Linked DNA regions of Homo sapiens: region 2 is linked to region 1. The links come from fine-mapping of genetic effects on gene expression. A gene starts in region 1. The other region holds a variant in brackets. All regions are shown on one strand. Distances are between the middles of the regions. Region 1 holds the start of C8orf34-AS1 (C8orf34 antisense RNA 1). Region 2 overlaps C8orf34 (chromosome 8 open reading frame 34).

The links. PIP is the estimated chance that this variant, and not a neighbour inherited with it, causes the effect.
Region 2: its variant is fine-mapped to the expression of C8orf34-AS1 in cerebellum (GTEx, PIP above 0.99). The same link has a PIP of 0.9 or more in cerebellar hemisphere.

What each region holds. Positions count from the first base shown.
Region 1 is chr8:68,330,170-68,333,078 of GRCh38, forward strand. C8orf34-AS1 (C8orf34 antisense RNA 1) reads right to left here and starts at 1,322. Exons shown (of 3, transcript NR_038877.1): 1 at 1,138-1,322. C8orf34 (chromosome 8 open reading frame 34) reads left to right here and starts at 786. Exons shown (of 14, transcript NM_052958.4): 1 at 786-1,170. The coding sequence starts at 844.
Region 2 is chr8:68,382,296-68,385,204 of GRCh38, forward strand. The region is part of intron 1 of C8orf34 (chromosome 8 open reading frame 34); the gene reads left to right. Among named protein-coding and RNA genes, the nearest start is that of C8orf34-AS1, 52 kb to the left of the region's middle. The variant G/C (reference allele first, on the strand shown) is at 1,411.

The sequences.
Region 1 (2,909 bases):
TTGGCTAAATTTGAGCAGCTCACGCAGTATCTAGAGGAAACATTATGAAGTGGGATAGTGTGGTGTCTGAGATGCAGTTATAGGTATACAGACATGACTCAAGGCGTGGATTAGGAAGGCCAACTTTGGAGGGGAGGGCTGGCTCGCTCATTTCTCTTCTCCCTGTCAAATGCTGAAAGGCTGGTTCCAGCCTTTGAGCTCCTGCACTTTGAGAGTTTTCAGCTGGGTTCTCAGGCTGCGTTCACCCGTCGACTTGCTCCAGGCCAAACCAGATTTTGAAAAGGAAGGCAACTTCTTTTTCGCGGCAAACCCTTAAACCCACGCACCTTCTCAAAACTCTGCCCTTCTCAACCCCTGCGCTAGAGTAGGCAGGGCAGAAGGTGCTGAGGAGAGGCTCAGAAGGGGCGGTGGGGACGATCCCCTTTCGAACTGCATTTGTAGCTGCCAAGGAGTAGCCAACAAGCACCAGATTTATGTGCACTTTGAAAGAAGCACCTTCACCATTGGCTTTTTAAGCGGCGCTGTCGCTAGGGAGCGGCTGGTAGGGCGAGCAGCCTCGGGGAGCAGCCCGGGCTGTTTGTTCCGTCACCGGGGAAAGGAGGTACACACAGTCGCGCGCGCACGGACACACACACACACGCACGCACGCACACACACCGGTGGCGAGTTCGAGCCCCGCGGCCCCTGTCCGCCCGCGTGCGCCCCTCGACACAGCTCGCCTCCCGCCCCCTGATTCCTGCTGCTGCCGCCCAGAGGAGAAAGGAACCTCTGCCTCGAATTTCCCCACTGCGCCGGGCGCTGCGGAGAGCGGCGAGGGTGGGCGCGAGGCGGAGAACGCGATGAATGAGTTCTCCCCTCGCCTCGGAGTTGTCTGAGTTGGCGGCGCTGCGCCCAGGCTTCCGGCTCTCAGCGCCCCACGCGCGCGTGGCTCCCCGGGCTGCCACCCACGCCCGCGGCCGGGGCCGAGCCAGCCACGCAGGGCAGCCGAGGCTCCGGAGCTCCTGTCCCGGCCCCAGTCCGGGTAAAAGGAGGGTTGTCCCCAGCGGAGGCGCACAGCCGCGCGTTCTCCCTGCACTCTCTTCGCGGTCCCATCTGTTCCCCATGGCGTCTCATCCGCAAACCCGGATCCAGGCTTACCTGGAGAAGAACAAGATCGGTCCCCTGTTTGAGGTAAGGCGCTGTGGAGGAGGGCAGTCCCGTTGTCTTTAGGGGAAGGGGTGCAGTAATGAAAACAGAACACTCCCAATCCCACCCCTCCCAGGGAAGGAGGGCTAGAGAACCAACGCGCGGGAGAGGGCGCCCTGGGATTCACTGGCATTCGCTCTGTCCCGGCCAGGTGTCCTGGAACGCGGCCGGGCGGGCACTTAGCCAGTTACCTGAACGCGGACAGGTGAGCTCGGGAGGGCCCAGCCTCAGCCTGGCAGGGGAAGTTTTGGCCCTCTGACTGTCCTGCACCTCTCAGCTACATGTTCAGGACCCGGGCAGGCTGAGGCAGGCGACGCATACGGATGCACACACTCAGACTGTGTTGCACACGCACACTTTCTTTTTTGAATTCACGCTATCTTGAGTGTTCGTGTTGGATTTTCTTTTTTCTTTTCTTTTCTTTCCTTCTTTTTTTTTTTTTTTTTTTTTTTTTTTTTAATGAGGGCGGTAATAGAACCCGAAAAGGTGGAGGAGGTGCTTAGCAGTTAATACAATTAACTGGAAGACAGCTGAACTGGTGAGGAGTAGGCTTCAGTCGGTGCGGGCGTGATGAATGAAATTGGCAAACTGAGAGACTGCCATTTGGTCACTGGACGAAAGGAGAGTCCTTTGCACTGCAGACCCCACATGTGTTAGCAGGAGAAAGGGACGGAGAAAGGTTCTGAAAAGCACACACGTATTTGTGGAAGAAGACTATAGCTCTGAGCTGGTTTTGTTTTTTTTTCTCTCTCTCGCCATTAAAGAATTTAAGACAAAAATACAGTAGAAGGAAGAGCGCGAGGACACGAGAAAATGAGAACAAGAGATTGAAGCCTGGCACCAGCAAAGCGTCCCGCGGGTTGCCAGGGTGCTGAGCAGGGGTGGGGCGTGCGGACCGTAGTCAGAAGTGGAGGCCCTTGCGGAGGGACTCCCTTGGTCCCATCCAGTTCAGGGGGCACTGACCGGCGGCGAGAGTTCGCGGGAGGGTCGAGGTGCTCCCGCCTTGCCCCCGCCTTGCCCCCGCCTTGCCCCCGCCCCCCACGTCTCCCAGAAGCAGTTGTAGCTGTTCTTAACAGCTTGGTTTGGGGTGAGGGCTTGGTATGGGGAGGAGGTTACGTGTCAGTGTCTGAGAGAGGCAGAATCGCGGCAAGTGGAAGGGGCTGCACTGGAGATCGCGGAAAACCTAGCAAAGACTGAAGAGAAGCAAGTGAGAACTGTGGAGAACAAAAAAATAATGCGAGTTAATGACCCTGCAAAAAAAGGGCGCGGAGGACAAAGGTGTGGTCCAATAGGTCTTTTGGGAGGACGGGTTTCACATAACAAGATTTGCAAGATCTCCTAAGTTTTTTTGCCCAACTTTAACGTTGATCTGTCTTAGACGATAAGACCATTGTTTCAATTGAAGCTCGCATTGTGGGGTGCAGAGTCCTACAATTGCTTTGATTCTTTTTTCTGCCAAAAATGTTAACAAAGGCAATCCATGCAAGAGCGAAATAAAATTGATGGAACTACCAGATTTCTTTTCTTTGCCTTTAGTTTAATGATTATTGATTATACATAATCCTATATAATTTTTTTAAAGGCAGAAGCCTAAAACCTTCTGCAACGCAGTGTATTAATTGCATCGAAAGAATCATAAAATACATACATTTAGAGTGTGTGTTTTCTCTCTACTCTCCTGGAGTATAAAGTACAATTAGCCTGGGAGAATAAATGAATTGTTT
Region 2 (2,909 bases), 52 kb after region 1:
AGAGATTTTTACAGTTTACAATCTTGACAGTGTTATAGGTTGCTTTTTTCTCTGTATTTTTGCCTCTGTTTCCTCATCTGTGATACAGAAATAATTATACAATGAACTAAAGTAAATTAAATTAGAAATTCAGTCTTCATTCTCACTAGCCAGATTTCAAGAGTTCAAAAGTAACGTGTACCTACTGTGTTGAACACAGCAGACCTAGAGTACTGCTCTCATTGCAGAATACTTTTGCTGGACCAATGGGCCTTAGGTTCAGAAGCATTTCTATTTCCCATCATTCCTGGCCTCCCATCTATTCCACACAGTAAGATGCTGCCATCCCTTGGCCCCTGTGACACCATGCTCCCTTAGTTTTCTTCCAGCCTCTTCAGGCCATTTCTTCTCAGTCTCCCTTAGGAACTCCTCCACCTCCACCTGCTCTTTAAAAGTTGAACATTCTCAGGACTCAGTCCTAGATCTCCTCTTTTTTTATTTTATACTTTCCTTTAGAAAGATTCTATGGATTCCAACACTTTCTATTTGGTTGGAATAGAATTCTATTTGGCAATTCTGAAATTTATATTTATATTTATATCATATCTTCTGATAGGTCTACTTTGCATCCGTGCACTGGCATCCATGCCAGTTTCATCCTCCTGGGAGAAAGGGGGTTCCTCAGACAGGAGCTAGAAAATGAAAGCTCCACTCTCATGATCAGAAGAGTGCTGTCTTTCTTTTGGCCTAGACATTGAGTCTGCATATCTAGGAGGTTATATATTGTAGCATAGGTTAAAGATAATGTCAGACCAAGAATTAGGAAATCTGAAAGTCAGGAAGATGTGACCGTCATCCTAGGTCCAGCACACACTTGAGAGTGAAATTATCTGGGGTCATTATCATGGCCATGTTTATATTCTTTATTTACATCCTAGTTTCTAGTAAAATTTTATTGAAAATTCTGAATTTACTTCAACTGTACGATGTAGAGCACATTAAGAGGGGAAACATTTGCCTAAATTTGGGCCATGATGTTAACCATAAAACTGTGTCCTCTAGCCCCATTTCCCCATTTCCTACTTCAGATCCCTGTGATGGTGACTGGTAATGTATGAGCTGTTCCATAGGTCTGTCTTGCTTGTTCAGACAATTTCCCCATCATGAAATTTTTCTTCCAGCATTAATATTTAAAGTTCATAGTTTTCATGTGATTGAAATACATATTCCCTTCAAGGTCCCTGCTGGGAGAAAGTATACTCGGGTCTAGAATGTTTCTCTAAGGTTTCAGGTCCAGTATATACATCTGCATCTACAGTGTAAGAATGATGAATAAGCTTCTAAGTTATCACATCCTAATTTGTGCTTCGAGCTGTACAGTGTGCAATAGTGCACCCTTCTGGAAAAATATTAGAAAAAAACTACATCCTC[G/C]ACTGCAGCCCATCCTGATTATTTATTTTGACTTGTGCTGAGAATTGCTCATTTCCTCTCTGCAGTCACTGGCATCTCCATGACTGTCTTGTGCCAATGTGTCCAGGAGAATAGCCTGGCACTGGCCAGGTGCTGAAAAAATACTCCTTGAGCTAAAGAACCCATGTTTGTATCATTAAGCAGTCTAAATGAGACAATGTAATCTCCCTAATAGGGTGGGAGGAAGAGGATTTCTGTTCTGCCAAAAGAAACATACAGGATTTTGGTATAGATGCTGGTGAATTTCAAACTGTCTGCCATTCAGATGTGTGTCCTATTTAGGAGATACTTAACCACACTACCCTTTCTCAGAAGACATGATAGGAAGGAAAGTTTTACCCTTTTAACAAAATGAACTAAAATGAAATGCTTTAGAGGTGAAAATTTGGCTCTTTCCAATTCTATTTTCTAAGACTATTATTTTTAAATTTTGTTTACATCTAAAGTCAATGTCAATATAGAGTTCTCAACCCTCTCCTTTGAAGTTTCAATAGGTTCCTTCGAGAGTAAAATGACAGCAACAGCAAAAACAGTAGGTCAAAAGAACATGTATCAATGGCTTTTGCCAGTTTAGTGTTGAAAGTACTAATATCTTGCTGTTTGCATCACTTCTTGATTTGCTGTCTGGCCCAACAATATGTTTGGAATGCAGGGCAGTCTGTTTGATATATATGGCGCTGGCCTCTGCTTCTGGGTCTGCGCTTTTGTTGCCAAGATATTGCTTTACTTGTTAAATAAAAGAAGACAAGATTAATTGGTTAATAGTAAAACTCTAGGCTGTATGATTAAATATTGTACAACAACAAACATTGTGTTTTTAAGAAGTGAGGAGATGCATAGTAAAAGCCAGGGTGAGTTTATTCCATAAGGGCATGGTTTGCCCTCTGCTGTTGCTGATTGCTCTCAGATTAATCAGGCTAAAACTGGTTGTTTAAATACATAAAATGCTTTGACAAGAAAAGTGATCCAGTTGGTACGTGCAGGCTTAACTGTTATCTCCACTCAGCCAAAGGTTTTGTTCTCTCTTGCACTCTGCATATATTTTGAAAGATTGGAAATGTAGGTTCTAATAATAACATGATGGAACCAAGCTCATGGTGGGAGCAGATGGTGAAATTTTAACAGATGACATGAGAGTGTAGAGTGATTCAACCTTTATTTTGCTGATAGATTTTCTATCAAAGAGGATTAACTTTACACACCAGAAAATAGGGTGTTCTTGATTAAGAAGAAGCTGAAAACGAAGGAACGAAAAAAATATGCAATATGCTTTTAATGAGTTTAAAGTCTCTTGGCTCAGTGTGGTTATATCCTTGTGAATGTAAACAACTTGAATTGAGGTCACAGAACCATGGAGTGTCCTCTTTAATTAATAAGCCAATACCTCACCACAATTACTATGTGACAGTCACGGTCTAAGCACTGGGTATTATTTGATCCTTACCTCAACCTTATGTGGT